4 linked regions of the Homo sapiens genome follow. The protein of the gene in region 3 purifies or fractionates together with the protein of the main gene of each other region. This does not show direct contact. Each region holds a gene or a part of one and is shown on either strand. Other genes may lie near its edges.

Evidence for each region. Proteins that work in one complex are often made in the same cells at the same time.
Region 1: the proteins of TMEM255A (region 3) and MACO1 purify together in Homo sapiens (affinity purification with mass spectrometry; one large-scale study listed by BioGRID and IntAct). This does not show direct contact.
Region 2: the proteins of TMEM255A (region 3) and KCTD2 purify together in Homo sapiens (affinity purification with mass spectrometry; 3 studies listed by BioGRID and IntAct, with this or other methods). This does not show direct contact.
Region 4: the proteins of TMEM255A (region 3) and TNPO1 purify together in Homo sapiens (affinity purification with mass spectrometry; one large-scale study listed by BioGRID and IntAct). This does not show direct contact.

What each region holds. Positions count from the first base shown.
Region 1 is NC_000001.11:25,437,131-25,441,125, forward strand, and holds part of MACO1 (macoilin), read left to right. Parts: intron 1-3,995. UniProt on the Homo sapiens protein: Plays a role in the regulation of neuronal activity.
Region 2 is NC_000017.11:75,053,459-75,057,453, forward strand, and holds part of KCTD2 (BTB/POZ domain-containing protein KCTD2), read left to right. Parts: intron 1-3,995.
Region 3 is NC_000023.11:120,283,564-120,287,558, forward strand, and holds part of TMEM255A (transmembrane protein 255A), read right to left. Parts: intron 3,660-3,995; coding exon 3,591-3,659; intron 2,134-3,590; coding exon of another isoform or gene 2,062-2,133; intron 1,653-2,061; coding exon 1,564-1,652; intron 1-1,563.
Region 4 is NC_000005.10:72,882,395-72,886,389, reverse strand, and holds part of TNPO1 (transportin-1), read right to left. Parts: intron 3,924-3,995; coding exon 3,863-3,923; intron 3,327-3,862; coding exon 3,158-3,326; intron 1-3,157. UniProt on the Homo sapiens protein: Functions in nuclear protein import as nuclear transport receptor. Serves as receptor for nuclear localization signals (NLS) in cargo substrates.

The DNA.
Region 1 (3,995 bases), on a different chromosome or scaffold from region 3:
AAACACTTTTTTTTTTTTTTTTGAGACAGGGTCTCATTCTGTCGCCCAGGCTGGAGTCCAGCAGCGAGATCACAGCTCACTGTATCCTTCATCTCCTGGGTTCAAGAGATCCTTACACTTCAGCTGACCGAGTAGCTGGGACCAAAGGCATATACTACCATGCCTGGCTTTTTTTTTTTTTTTTTTTTTTTGCGTTTTTGCGTTTTTATAAAGATGGAGTCTCGCCGTGTTGTATAGGCTGGTCTTGAACTCCTGGGCTCAAGTGAGCCACTCACCTTGACCTCTCAAAGTACTGGGATTATAGGCATGAGCCACCGCACCCACCCAACACTTTTAAAAACCAAATAAATAGCTGAGTACTAAAATCAGTACTTTGCCTATCTTGTAGCAAGAATAGTTGAACATTAAAGAGAATGAATACTATGTTCATGTCCAAAGTAAGGATTCCTGTCTCAGAAAAGAGAGATACTGTCTGAGGCTTGAGTCGTCTTGCTCAGATGTAATAAGAATTTTTGGCCGGGTGTGATGGCTGTAACCCCAGCACTTTGGGAGGCTAAGGCAAGAGGATTGCTTGAGTCCAGGAGTTCAAGACTAGCCTAGGTAACATAGCGAGACCTCATCTCTACTAAAATTCAAAAAAATTAGCTGGGTGTGGTGTCACATTCCTGTAGTCCCAGCTACTTGGGAGGCTGAGGCGGGAGGATCACGTGAGCCCAGGAGTTTGAGGCTGCAGTGTGCCATGATCGTGTCACTACACTCCAGCCTGGGCAATAGAGCAAGACCCTGTGTCAAAAAAAGAGAATTGGCTGGGCGTGGTGGTTAATATAATCCCAAAGTGCTGATATTATAGGCGTGAGCCACCATAATCAGCCCCCAATTTAAAGGAAAAAAAAAATCTAGAATGGAAATCGCTAAAAAAGGTTTTCACGGTTTTGTAGTATAACATTTTTATAAAGGTCTGTATAGACCACAGAGATATCAAGGACAGGTATTGTAACCTAATGCAGGTGGTGAGTTTTAGAATTTCTGTTTCAAGAATACTTTTAACAGTGTGGAGTCTATGGGGTTGAGGAAGGGGAGGGGTGAAGAAGCATAGGCGGAGAGAGAAAACAACTCACAGGCTCTAAAAAAACCTGTTAACATTATATAAACATTAGAAATTCATTTCATAAGGGAATCAAAATTATGCTTCATATAATTGATAGTAATAATCTGCTTAATCACACCTTACATTTCTGTCTTACTTGTAACTTTTCCAAATGTTTTCATATTATCTCATTTTATCCTCACAAGTGTGAAATAGGCAGAGTAGGTATTGCCATTTTATAGGAAACAAACCTGAGGAATAGAGAACTAAAAAGCTGCAAGGCACTATTGAAAGAGTACAGAAACAGAAGTTAGGAGACTGCAGAGAACAGTGTAAATTCTATGTGGAACTCTATGTTGCTGCTAAAATGGATAAGGGAAATTCTATATAAAGAAGTGGACATGACTGGGCCCCGTGGCTCACGCCTGTAATCCCAGCACTTTGGGAGGTCGAGGCGGGTGGATCACCTGAGGTCAGGAGTTCAAGACCAGCCTGGCCAACGTGGCGAAACCCCGTCTCTACTAAAAATATAAAAATTAGCTGGGCGTGGTAGCATGCGCCTGTAATCCCAGCTACTTGGGAGACTTGGGAGAACTGCTTGAACCCAGGAGGCAGAGGTTGCAGTGAGTCGAGATTGTGCCACTGCACTCCAGCCTAGGCAACAGAGTGAGACTGTCTCAAGAAAAATAAAATAAAATAAAAAACTAAAAAAAAAAGAAGTGGACATGTCAAACAGAAACCTGTTTTTGTTAAGAAAGAAACACATTTGTTTATATAGAAAAAGCAAATTATATTTATGAATTATATAACAGCAATCATCTTGGGGCAGGACTACTAAGGGCTTTTATATTATACATTATATTACCTTTTTAATAACAAGTATGTGTTGCTTCTTTTTAACTTCTCATTTTGAAATAATTTTAGATTTAATTAAACAGAAAAGTCACAAAAATAGTACAAAGTACTTACACCTTAGTGAAAGGCATAAGATACCCTATTTATTTATTTATTTATTTTTAAAGAAAAAAAATAGCCAGGCATGGTGGCTCTTGCCTGTCACCCTTGCTACTTGGGAGGCTGAGGTGGGAGGATCGCTTGAGCTCAGGAGTTGGAGGTTGCAGTGAGTTATGATCACACCACTGCGCTACAGCCTAGGAGACAGAGTAAGACTCTGTCTCTGAAAAAAATAAACAAACAAAAAAGGGCATATTTCACACTGTTAGATTTGTCATTGCAGTGGCTGCACATGTACGCGCGCGTGTGTGTGTGTGTAATTGACACTAGAAAGGTTCCCTTTGCAGTATGCAGGAGGCCTAGAATAGAAAAAAGAAATATAGAACAGCTTGGTCTTCTCAGCCTGCTCCCCTTTTTTGGATTTTATACAAGGAGGTGCCTGCAGAATGCAGCAGTGGTTCCAGTTTATTTTATGTTAAGGCTCACACACAAATTTCTGTTTTTTTTTTTTTTGTCAAAAAATTTTTTTGTCTCTGGATCTCTTTACACTCTTAAAAATGATTGAGGCTGGACACTGTGGCTCACACCTGTAATCCCAGCACTTTGGGAGGCTGAGACAGGTGGATCACTTGAGGTCAGGAGTTTGAGACCAGCCTGACCAACTTGGAGAAACCCCGTCTCTACTAAAAATGAAAAATTAGCTGGGCATGGTGGCGCATGCCTGTAATCCCAGCTACTTGGGAGGCTGAGGCAGGAGAATCACTTGAACCCAGGAGGCAGAGATTGCGGTGAGCCGAGATCGTACCATTGCATTCTAGCCTGGGCAACAAGCGAAACTCTGTCTCAAAAAAAAAAAAAAAGATTGAGAATATCACAGAGATTTGGTTTATATGGATTATATCTATCAATATTTACTGTATTAGAAATTAAAACTGGCTGGATGTGGTGGCTCATGCCTGTAGTCCCAACACTTTGGGAGGTCAAGGTAGGAGGATCACTTGAGCCCAGGATCTTGCTATGTTGACCAATCTGGGCAACATAGCAACATCCCATCTCTACAAAAAAAAAAAAAAAAAAATTAGCCAAGCATGGTGGTATGTGCCCGTAGTCCTAATTACTCTGGAGGCTGAGATAGGAGGATCACTTGAGCCCAGGTTGAGGTTGAGGCTGCAGTGAACTATGATTGTACCACTGCACTTCAGCCTGGGCAACAAAGGAAGACCCCAGTTCTGGGAAAAAAAAAAAAAAAAGAAGAAAGAAAAAAGTTAAAATAGAAAAATTTAAAACATTAGTTCACTTAAAAGTACCAATAAATTGCTGAGCACAGTGGCTCACGCCTGTAATCCCAGCACTTTGTGAGGCCAAGGCAGGCGGATCACCTGAGGTCAGGAGTTCGAGACCAGCCTGGTCAACATGGTGAAACCCCATCTCTACTAAAAATACAAAAATTAGCCAGGCATGGTGGTAGGCACCTGTAATCCCAGCTACTTGAGAGGCTGAGGTGGGAGAATCACTTGAACTGGGAGGTAGAGGTTGCAGTGAGCCAAGATTGCGCCATTGCACTCCAGCCTGGGCGACAGAGTGAGACTCCATCTCAAAAAAAAAAAAAAAAAAGAAAAGTAACAATAAATTAATAAATTCATGAGAAGACTGGTGTGGTTTTACATTTTTGCATAGCTCTTTAGTGTCTGGCTTACTAGAAGATACTTTGAGAACCACCGCTGTCGTCAGAGCCAGTGGCAGGTAGGCCAAATGGAGTGATAGTCTGGCACCCAGAACAAGGCTTATTAAATTAGTTTCTTCATAGTGAAGAACATTCAGAACAGATGGGAGCAGGTTCATGGTAATCGTTCAGGCAGAAGCTGCATTGGTTATCTTGGTTGTTGTTGCTTTGTCCAGACACCTTCCCAGTCAGTCACCTGTGTGTCATCTCTCCCTCTATATTCGTTGTAAG
Region 2 (3,995 bases), on a different chromosome or scaffold from region 3:
GAGATGGAGTCTCGCCCTGTCGCCCAGGCCGGAGTGCAGTGGTGCAATCTCGGCTCACTGCAACCTCTGCCTCCCAGGTTCAAGTAATTCTCCTGCCTCAGCCTCCCGTGTAGCTGGGACTACAGGTGTGTGCCACCACGCCTGACTAATTTTTGTATTTTTTTAGTAGAGATGGGGTTTCACCATGTTGGTCAGGCTGGTCTCGAACTCCCGACCTCAGGTGATCTGCCCGCCTCAGCCTCCCAAAGTGCTGGGATTACAGGCGTGAGGCACTGCGCCCAGCTTGGCCACTCTTTATGGAGATGAGCCTTTAGCATGTGATCGAGTCACATGCAGCTCCTGTGAGCCACTTGAAACCAGTCTCATGGGGTACGCTTCAGCAGCTGCTTGTGAACCATGCTTTTTTTTTTTTTTTTTTTTTTTTTTGAGACAGAGTCTCACTCTCTCCCCCAGGCTGGCCTCCCAAAGTGCTAGGATTACAGGAGTGAGCCACCACACCCAGCCTGAACCATGCTTCTAAGAACATAATATCAAGCTGCTCTTTATGATGGTGTCTTGATTTTGGCGGGGAGAGGGAGGACAAGGTCTCACTCCCGTTGCCCAGGTTGGAGTGCAGTGGCGTGATCACAGCTCACTGCAGCCTTGGCTTCCCAGGCTCAGGTGATTTTCCTACCTCAGCCTACCGAGTAGCTGGGACTACAGCTGCAAGCTACCACACCTGGCTAATTTTTTGTATTTTGGGTAGAAACGAGCCTTGTTGGCCAGGCTGGTCTCAAACTCCTGAACTCAAGCAACCCGCCCACCTCATCCTCCCAAAGTTCTGGAATTACAGGTGTGAGCTACCGCACCTGGCCTTGATTTTGATATTAACTCAGATACAGTAACAAGAGCGAAAGGGAATTTGCCCACCTAGTTAGAGGAAAGAAAGATGTTACGGCACATCTATTTCACATCCTGCCATTCGTCATATGTTTGTCGTGTGTTTGAATGGCCATAATAGCTTCTATTTGGCCCTTGGGATTCTGTAAGTAATTGAAAGTCCTTGCCCTCAAGAAGCTTGAAGTCGGCCGGGCGCGGTGGCTCACGCCTGTAATCCCAGCACTTTGGGAGGCCGAGACGGGCAGATCATGAGGTCAGGAGATCGAGACCATCCTGGCTAACACGGTGAAACCCCGTCTCTACTAAAAATACAAAAAAAATTAGCCAGGCATGGTGATGGGTGCCTGTAGTCCCAGCTGCTCGGGAGGCTGAAGCAGGAGAATGGTGTGAACCCAGGAGGCGGAGCTTGTAGTGAGCCAAGATCGCACCACTGCACCACTCCAGCCTGGGCGACAGAGGGAGACTCCATCTCAAAAAAAAAAAAAAGAAGCTTGAAGTATAGCCAGGAAAATAGACCCTCTCTTTCATGCGATTAGACTGTTTTAAGAAACTGCAACTACAGAGTTAACAGTAAGAAGGCAGAGTCGTGCTCCACCATGACTACCTGTGTTGTAGCATAATTGCCTCTTTTCCCATCAGATACTGGTAGTAGATGCTTTAGGTATAATCTATTGCAGCACAGAATTTTCCTGCCATTAAGAAGGCAGGAAAATTATTCTTTTTTCTTCTTTTTTTGAGGCAGAGTTTTCCTCTGTCACCCAGGCAGGAGTGCAGTGGCATGATCTCGGCTTACTGCAACCTCTGCCTCCCAGGTTCAAGCGATTCTCATGTCTCAGCCACCTGAGTAGCTGTGATTACAGGTGTGTGCCACAATGCCTGGCTAATTTTTGTATTTTTAGTAGAGATGGTGTTTCGCCATATTGACCAGGCTGGTCTTGAACTTCAGGCCTCAAGTGATCCACTTGCCTCAGCCTCCCAAAGTGCTGGGATTACAGGCATGAGGCACCATGCCTGGCATAAGTTTACTTTTAAAAGTAAAAAATAATGCCTTGGTCTTTCTATGTTAGATTTCATATATCAAAGTTTTCTGGCTCTAGGCCAGGTATGGTGGCTCACGCCTGTAATCCCAGCACTCTGGGAGGCTGAGGAGGGCAGATCACTTGAGGTCAGGAGTTCAAGACCAGCCTGGCCAACATGGTGAAACCCTGTCTACTGGCCGGGCGTGGTGGCTCATGCCTGTAATCCCAGCACTTTGGGAGGCCGAGGCAGGTGGATCACCTGAGGTCAGGAGTTCAAGACGAGCCTGACTAACATGGAGAAACCCTGTCTCTACTAAAAATACAAAAGTAGCTGGGGTGGTGGCACATGCCTGTAATCCCAGCTACTTGGGAGGCTGAGGCAGGAGAATGGCTTGAACCCGGGAGGAGGAGGTTGTGGTGAGCCGAGATCACGCCATTGCACTCCAGCCTGGGCAACAGGAGCGAAACTCCCATCTAAAAAAAAAAAAAGAAAGAAAGAAACCCTGTCTACTAAAAATACGAAAATTGTCTGAGTGTGGTAGCGGGCGCCTATAATCCCAGCTACTTGGGAGGCTGAGGCAGGAGAATCGCTTGAACTAAGATAGCAGAGGTTGCAGTGAGCTGAGATGGCACCACTGCACCCCAGCCTGGGCAACAGAGTGAGACTCCATCTCAAAAAAAAAAAGTTTTCTGGCTCTAACTGGAATATTTGGATGAATAACTGACACTAATGATGAAAAATTAACTCTTTTATCCACTTTATCTCCAGCAGTTTGCAAAAGTGAAGAGAAGGGCTTATTCATTTAGTTTTCTTCCATCTAGCTGACAGCTCAAAGGCTCCTTTTTGATGTTCAAAGGTGGCTTTGTAGTTGGTTTGCAGATTACCACTTGGAATGTGATCCAGTGTCACCAGTCTCTTTGCTATCTTACCTTTACGTGGTATCTTTCACTATTGTAGATATTTAATAGTTTAGACATTTTGGTAATCTAGCCTTATCCTCAGTTTCCCACATTCTAAAAAAATGATTGCTTACTATAGATTTTAAAGTACCATGAATTATGTAATTTGAAATGATTCAAGTCATGGTACCTGAACATTCTCCCTTCTTCGTCATTAGCTAATTCCTGGAGAGCATTATAAGATTTCTGTTTGATGACCGCAATTAAATTAATTAGTCTTCTAGATTCTGAAGGCTTGTGGATTTATACCCCTTTGGAAGCTTTTTTGTTCTAGGAATGTCAAGACCTTTTTGATGTTAACTATCTTTCCATCTGTCCTTTTTATGTAGTGAAACTGAAAAATGGATTTGATGTTATTCAAAGACACCCTCTTTTATACTTGTTGTATGTGGCTCTAAGATGAAGTTGGCTGTGTGTGGATTTTCGTTTTGTTTCATTTTGTATTTTTCTTTATTTTTTTGTGTGTGGATTTTCAAACATGTTACCTCCTTGAACTTACCTGTAGCCCCTCACACATGCAGGATTCAAGCCAAGCCCAAGATGTGGGCCTCAACCCTACCTTCGGTTTCATGACCTCTTAGCTCTTAGTGGCTGCCACCTAACTACTTTCCTCTGTTTCTTTTTTTTTCTTTTTTCTTTTTTTTTTTTTTTTTTTGGAGACAGAGTCTCGCTGTGTTGACCAGGCTGGAGTGCAGTGATGCGATCTCAGCTCACTGCAACCTCTGCCTCCTGGGTTCCAGCGATTCACCTGCCTCAGCTTCCCGAGTAGCTAGATTACAGGTGTGCACCACCACGCCCGGCTAATTTTTGTATTTTTAGTAGAGACAGGGTATCCCCATGTTGGCCACACTGGCCTCAAACTCTTGATCTTAGGCGAGCCACCAACCTCAGCCTCCCAAAGTGCTGGGATTACAGGCGTGAGCAACCATACCCAGACTCCTATTTCTTAGAATAGTATTTTTTGTAGGTGATTGATCCTGGTGCATTTGAGAGCACAAGTGGTTTACTTTGGAAGGGAGAAAAAAGAGGCAGTATAATGGCATCTTAAATACCTGGGACTTTGACAGCTGTGGCCAACATCACAGATCTTTTGTGATACTCTGAATTTTGTACTTATACAATTGGTTTCCAAAATAA
Region 3 (3,995 bases):
GTGGCCCTCAGTTCGCCTTCACTAAGATTCTGAAGGAAATACGTGCATGACGAACATTGGTCGACATACCCTGCATGGAGAGGTGTTCACTCACTGTGCACATCACCTACTCACACATCCCTATTGATTCTACCTTCTAAATTGCTCTTAAAATGATTCCCCGCTTTGCATTGTCTCCAACTTGATCTAGGCTCCATTCTCTATGGCCTGCGCTCTTGCAATGGCCTCCTAGCTGCCTCCATTCCTCAACCACTCAATTCCATCTTCCATGCTGTACCCTTCAATGGCCCCCAGTTGCCTACAGGGTCAAGTCTGAAGTCATTCCTATGGCCAATGAGCTCTCTATCATCTGATCTCTGGCTACACCTCTGTCTTACCTCCTACCACACCTTCTGTAACTACCTCCACCCACTACCTCTTCACAACTACCAGGAATATCCTTCCCACCTCTGTCTTCTTTTGGTTTGTCTCCTGATTCCCTACTTATTCTGTAAGTCTCAGCTCCCATATCACCTACTCTTTGACACTTTTCCCTCCCGGCAAACTCTGACTTTCATTCATTGGGCCTCCAGAATCCCCACCACATCCACTGATCCCCACTGCACTTATCACATTATATTGCAATCGATTGTTCACATGTCCATCCTCTTTACTAGTCTACGAGCTCTTCAGTGGCAATCTCTGTATTCCTAGCGCCCAAATATATTTTGAAAGAAAGAATAAAGGATGTTTTAGCAATTTGGAGTGCACAGAGCCAGAGTGGCTGTAGCAGAACCAGCACCAAAACTGCTCCTGCCTCAGAACCTTTGCACTTGCTATTCCCTCTGCTTGAAGCACTCTTTCTCCAGGTATCTACCTGGGTTGCCCACCCACCCCCAACTACTTTCAGGTCTGCACAAATGTCACCTGCTCAAAGAGGCCTTCCCTGGCTACTCTATCTAACATACAGTGTGCGTGCATGTGCACGTGCACGCACACACACACACACACACACCCCTCATCACTATCTACCTCTCCTGCTTCATTTTTCTTCAGAGCTCTGATCACCACCTGGCATTATATTATATATTTCTGTATTTGTTGACTGTCTCCCCTACTAGAATATAAGCTCCACAGGGGAAAGGACTTCTGTTTTGTTGGCTGCTGAACCTTCAGTGTCTAGAACAGAGCCAGGCACCGAGAAGGTACTCAGTAACTATTTATTGAACATTGTTAAACTTGGATATAGACAGAGCTGAGTTTGAATCCTATACATATTATTTTCAAGTTCTGTGTAACCTTGGGCTAGTTGTCTGTTTCCTTTGAACTTCACTCTCCTCATCTATAAAATGAGGATTACTCTGCATACATCATAAGTAAGAATTAAATGAGATCAAGTATGTGAAAGTACCTAGCATGATGCCTGGCACAGAGAAGGCAAGTAATGTCTGTTAGCCAAAATCTGTTAACAGATCAATGTCTTCCACTTCCCTAATTCCCACAATGCACCCTTCCTTAACCTCAGCCCTTCTAGTGTCCGTTGTGGTCAGACCATTATTCCTGTGTCTGGGCCTCAACACTTACTTGCCACAGTTGTAGAGGTCACAGCAGAAGCAGGTGTTGCCCCGGATGCGAGGTGTGCAGAATTCACGGCTGAGGTGAGGGCAGTTAACCTGACGGTATATAACAGTGAGGAGATGAGCTGGCATTGGATAGGAAGCAGGACCCTCTGGGATTGGAAATGCGAGTTAGTGACTGATGGAGACAGTAAGGATGGCTTTGAAATGAACACCCAATGTGTGGGAAGGATGGGGCTGGATGGGGAGCTGGCCGAACTTGTGCATGAGGCAAGTCACTGTGTAGCTGGGCTCATGTCCAGCCTCTGCCACAGCCCTCAGTGCCCCATCCCTGAATGGTGGAGATGGAGAGAAGGAAGGACAGATGGAAGGACAGACGGAAGAACAAATGGACTGAAGGAAATGAGAATATGAGGGCAGGCAAAATCAGGGTACAGGAGGAAAGAAGATAAGGTGGGAAGGAAGACAGAGGAGCCGGCGCATGCACTCTGAAGTACAATAGTACCTCTCTAGCTGCCTGGGTAAGGTTCCTCATAACCCTCGTGGAAGGAGAATTTTTGGTTGAGGAACTTATGACCTTATGTAGGAAAAATAGGGTTAGGGGGACCAGGGTTACAAGTGAACCTATGGAAGTCATTATTAATATTTTTACAGTCACCAAATTAACGCAAGAAAGCTATCACAACAAAATCTAGAGAACAGCAATGACATTTTACACATTTTGAGTTAGCAAAAAGGTTTTAAAAACGGAAAAGAATTTCATTTACCATCTCTTGTTAGCAAGAAATTGTCCAGCTCTCTCCCCCATCCAGATGCAATGAAGTGCTGCTAAATTTGTCTTGCTTTGTTATAGAGAATATTCATAGCAAATGGGCATTTTTTTCTATATTGGGTCCTTCATCCAAATGCTTACTGCCTTTCAGATAAGCTGTTATCATATATGCATTTCTATTCCTCCTATCTAACCTGAGAACAGTGAGAGAAATAGTAAATTTATGGTTGTTAAAAGAAAAAGGAGTCAAGTGGATGGCAGAGACATAATCAAAGTATTTGCCATGGTGCCTTTGGAGCAGGACTGCTTTGCCTTACTCCAAGGGCACCCATTCACATTGTATTTTATGTAAAATGGCTTCCCCTGAAGCTGTGCAATGCAGTGGCCATTTTACATCCAATTGCCTTCCTTTTCTCTTCCCAACTGAAAGTTTACCATTTTTCTAACTATTTGGGAATGATTGACTTTCAATGTGAGGTTAATAGAGTACAAAATTGTCAAGATTCCTGGAAGCCTAGGTACAGTTTCATATGGAGAAATCCCTGGGTTGGGAAGGGATTATTGTATACTGAAATGAAAGCTCTCCAAAAATGACCTGGAGTCATACTTTGCCTCACTACGCATTGCATCTAGCTCTGCTTGAGGCAACATGGAACATAAGGAGAGCTGTTTGGGGCAGAAGAGAGACTCATCTGTGCATGCTCAAGCATTATTAGGCTGGCCTCTTGGAGGTGTTATGAGAGGGGCCAGGCTGACAGTCCCAGCCTCCCCAGAGCATAAAGGTGGATCTGGCTTCTCAGTTACCCTCATTTGGCTTCCAGACCCATCCTATGTGTGGAACTCAGGCTCTGCCTCCGTAGTTCAGGCCTAGTGCCCTGGTGGGGCTTCCACTTTTATTCCAACTGAGCACTGAGTTCAGGCAACTGAACCATCATCCACAGAGATGGGGGAGGGTCATGTCCTGTGGCCTCTGTACTCTCATTTGTCCCCCTGAGGATCAAAGCCACATATGGGGAGGCTCCCGGCTGGGGTCAGAGGGTCAGCCTGTGGCCACAGAACAAAGTAAAACTGATTAGGCCTCATGAGGCTCCAACCTATGACCATGGCCTCATTAGCAATGTGCTCTGACCCACTGAACAAATCAGCTATACATACCTAGAAATAAAACTTAGGCCCATGAAAAGGAGTAAAAGAAAGGGTGTTTCAGGCAGAACAGGGGACTTTCCCAGGAGGTAAAGACATGCAGCCTCATTCTGGCTCACCTCCTCAGCTTCCTTCTGTGATGTCTTGGGAACATAATGGCACCGGTTAGCGTAGAGTGGTTTCAGATCCTGAAAAGGGAAACACCAAAACAAAGGGGTTTTGACTTTGGAAAATAAAACAGCAAGTGTTGTACTTGGTAATAAAAGGTTTGAATACACACACACACACACACACACACACACAGAAGCAGGCAGGCAGTAGATTGGGTTAATTTCTGAAAGTCACCTGTCTAGGGAGACTGAGTGAAGATTAGACAAAAATACTTTAAAAATTACTTTCTATTAGACTACTTGGTTAATGAGAAATTATGAAACTGATTGAGAAATGGGCTTCTTGAAATTTCCTCTCTGGTTTTCTTTTACTTCTGGCCTTTGTCTTCTTGTAAACAGTCCTCAGGGAACAAG
Region 4 (3,995 bases), on a different chromosome or scaffold from region 3:
CATTATTAACTCTACTTAACATTTCCAGCAGTATATCATCTAGAATTAAACAGACAATTACTTAGCTGGACTTTAGACACAAAAACTGGAAGAAAAGTCACTGGCACATGAAACATAACGCATGCTAGAAAATACTCTTTACAAAGAATTAACTATGGGACTATAAATCAACCCAGATTTTATTATAATAATAATTTAGACAAGAGCAACAAAATCAAAAAGAACAACAAAAATATCATTTAACTGTTATGGGTAGGAACGTGTTCCTGAAGTTCATGTATTAGAAACCTAATCCCTAAAGCAACGAAGATGGGAGGTGGGGCCTATCAAGAGATGATTAGGTCTTAAGGGTTCTGCCCTCATAAATGGGTTAATGTCGTTACTGTAGGAGTGGGTTAGTTATCAAGAGAGTTGGCTTATTATAAGCGTGAATTGAGCTCTTAAGTGTGTCCTTCTGTCATCAGATGATGTTGCAAGGAGGTTCTCACCAGATGCAGCCCCTCCATTCTGAACTTCAGGTATCCTGTTATAGTAGTACAAAATGGACTAAGAAAATATCAGAAATTTCCAACGTGAACTAGGCATAGTAAATGGCTAATCACAAACTACTAGACAATAATAAAATCCTCAAAAAAAAAAAAAAAAACCAAACCAAACCAAAACAAAACCATTACATTGGCCAGAAATTAACACCTTACCCATCAATAAGGATCTTAGTTATACCACATGGTAGAGCCATACAACTAAACAGTACACTGACATGCAACAAAAGGAAATCTAAATCTGTATGTACTGAGGAAGAATGAGGCATACGATACACAGAAAGAAAGCAGCAGAGTACATATAATCTGATTTCACTTTTAGAAAACTGGCTTCTCCTCTAAAAAAGATGCCTGTATGTTTTCCCAAGCACGCACAGAAAAGCTTTTGGAAGGATACAAAGAATGGGATGTGAAGAGGAAGTGTTCCCCCATCCATGTATGTATATTATTTTGTAGAGTTTTCTGTGTAATGATCTTGAGCCATCCTGCTCCCCTAATCTGAAAGTAGGGATACACTGGGAAGTAATTTGTAATAGTAGTAAACACCATGTGTTGTCTTAACAAGTGAGACTTGGGTCCCAGTACTAGATGTGCTATCAGTACTAGCTATGCTAACCTTGGGTATATCTCTCTTTCTGCAGTTTTCTTGCCTATTCAAGGTTGTTGGAAATGTTAAATATGACTTTATTCTTACTTATGATTAAACAGACTTTGATATGCATGCAAAGTCCTTGGCCTAGTGCCTGGCACATTAGGCACTCTAAATAGAATGTTAGTTACAGGAAACTGAAGAGGCAACAGAGAAATTAGCATTATCTAACCAAATGAAGAACACAGCCCAGACTGATAATGTCTGTTCTTAACTGCTTTAATCATAGTTATTAGAAATCCCAACACTTTGAACTAGAGTAGTGGCTCTAAACTGGGGTTGATTTTGTTCCCCCAGGAGATAACGGTTGTCACAACTGTGTTTGTGCTGCTGGCATCTTTGGGTAGAGGCCAGGGATGCTGCTTAACATCCCACAACGTGCAGGACAGCCTCCGCAACAAAGAATTACATGCATGATGTGGCATTCACATGTAGAAAAAAAAAAAGAATTATGTGGCCCAAAATGCCAATAGTGCCAAGGCTGAGAAACCCTGAACTAGAGCAGTAGAGGTTTAAAATCCAGCAAACAAGCAAGCAAAATCAGAACACAGGTGTTTAGGTTCATCCCCAATTAGGAAGCGTGGGCCAGAATGCTAGCTCCACAGGTGATATGATTTGCAGCTAAGGTTGGAAATTAACATATTTTAAGAAGCATATTTCATAAATTTTGACTATAACAAAGCAACTTATAATAAATTTGAATATAATAAAGCAACTTATATTATTTTAGAATTACCTATGATAGCCAATTTTCATGCAAATTACCAGACAGAAAACACTCATGTTAGAAAAACCAAAAAAGCTTGTGGCAATGTTCTTACAGTATTAAAACAAACAGCCTTTTGAGAAATGGTAGTTTAAGAATATAATAATGATAAAATAAGAGCAGGTCCACCAGGAAAATGCAAACCAAAACCACAAAATACCACTTCACGTCCACTAGAATGACTATAATAATAAAGAGATAATAAAGCAAGTGAGCATGTGAAGAAACTGGAACCCTCCAGACAATGCTGCTAGGAAAGCAGAATGGTGCAGTCACTTTGGAAAACATCCTGGTTATTTCTCAAAAGGTTAAACATACAGTTACCATATGACCCCAACAATCCTTCTCCTGAGTGTTTACCCAAGAGAACTGAATACACATTGGGCCAGACACAGTGGCTTACGCCTGTAATCCTAGCACTTTGGGAGGGCAAGGCGGGTGGATCGCTTGAGCCCAACAGTTCAAGACCAGCCTGGGCAACATGGCAAAACTGTCTCTACCAAAAAAAAAAAAACAAAAATTCATCCAGGTGTATTGGTGAGCACCTGTAGTCCCAGCTACTTGGGGAGCTGAGGTGGGAGGATCACCAGAGCCCAGGGAGGTCAAGGCTGCGGTGGGCCATGACTGCGCCACTGCATAATCATGCTAGCCTGGGTGACAGAGACCCTGCCTCAAAACAAAAAAACAAACAAACAAACAAAAAAAGTCTACACACAAAAATTATACATGAGTATTTATAGCATCACAACTCAACAGCTACAAAAAGAGAAACACAAATGTCCACCAACCAATGAATGGAGAATATGTGGCATATTACAATGAAATATTATTTCACAATACAAGTGAATGCTACAAAATGAACCGTGAAAACTTTATGCTAAGTTAAAGAAGATGGTCACAAAGGACAATGCATTGTATGACTCCATTTACATGAAATGTCTAGAATAGGCAAACCCAGAGACAGAATATTGACTAGTAGTTGCCCAGAGCCAGTGAACAATAGGGAGTTACTGCTAAAGGGTATGGGTGATGAAAACATAGTCTACAACTGATTGTGGTAATGGTTGAACAGCTCTCTGAATATACTAAAAACCAATGAAATGTATACTTTAATGGGTAGTAAACTGTACAGTAGATGAATTATACCCCAATAAAGTTATCATCAAAGTAGGCAACTGTGCTTTTCCCTTTCTGACTTACTTAGATTCCAGTCAGAAATTGTATCATCATCATCAATTTCATCATCATCATCATCTTCCTCTTCAATTCCATCTTCATCATGCTGCTGAGCCACCGTCCTCGATCGGTGAAAACGTGGCCGTATATCCTGTTCACTATCAGGAATCGTTTCGTCTTCTTCAACATCACCCTGTTGTTTTTTTAAGAGAAATTTTTGGTGGCATTCATTATAGGCTAATAGTATGTACATGAGTAAGAGAAACAGAATATCCAGAGATGGGGTCATGCACAGAATTCTGAAATATACTTCCAGAGTGATTAAGAACCACGCCCATGTACAGAACATATTCCTTATGGAGGGGCGAATAGACTGACCTAACACACCTGTTAGGTTATACGGCCCTTTCAGCCAACTACATGGCCTCCACTGGCTGGTATAATCTAAGTTACCTGAATCAAATTCAGAGCAGCATATATAAGAATGTTTTTAAAATAACTCCAAGTAATTAAGGGGAAATTAATAATAACCCTACCAATGTCACCATCTAGTACCAAATTAAGCAAGAATTTATCATTACTTAAACTTATGCTTCTATCCTATTATGGATAATAGGAAGTCTATTTACAGGAGATCTATTCTCAATGAATGTTTTATTGGCCAAATCCAAAGATGTACTAAGTCAATATAAAAATCTTGTTCCCTATTCATCAAAAAAGCTTCCTTACCTTAAGTAGGATAATATCTATGTCTGAGTACTTCATGCCATTCACTAACACAGGAATCAACCTATAAAGAAAGAAATTCATGAAACAAAGACCTTAAGATCTCAAGAGAATAATTAATAAGTCTTAACCTTAC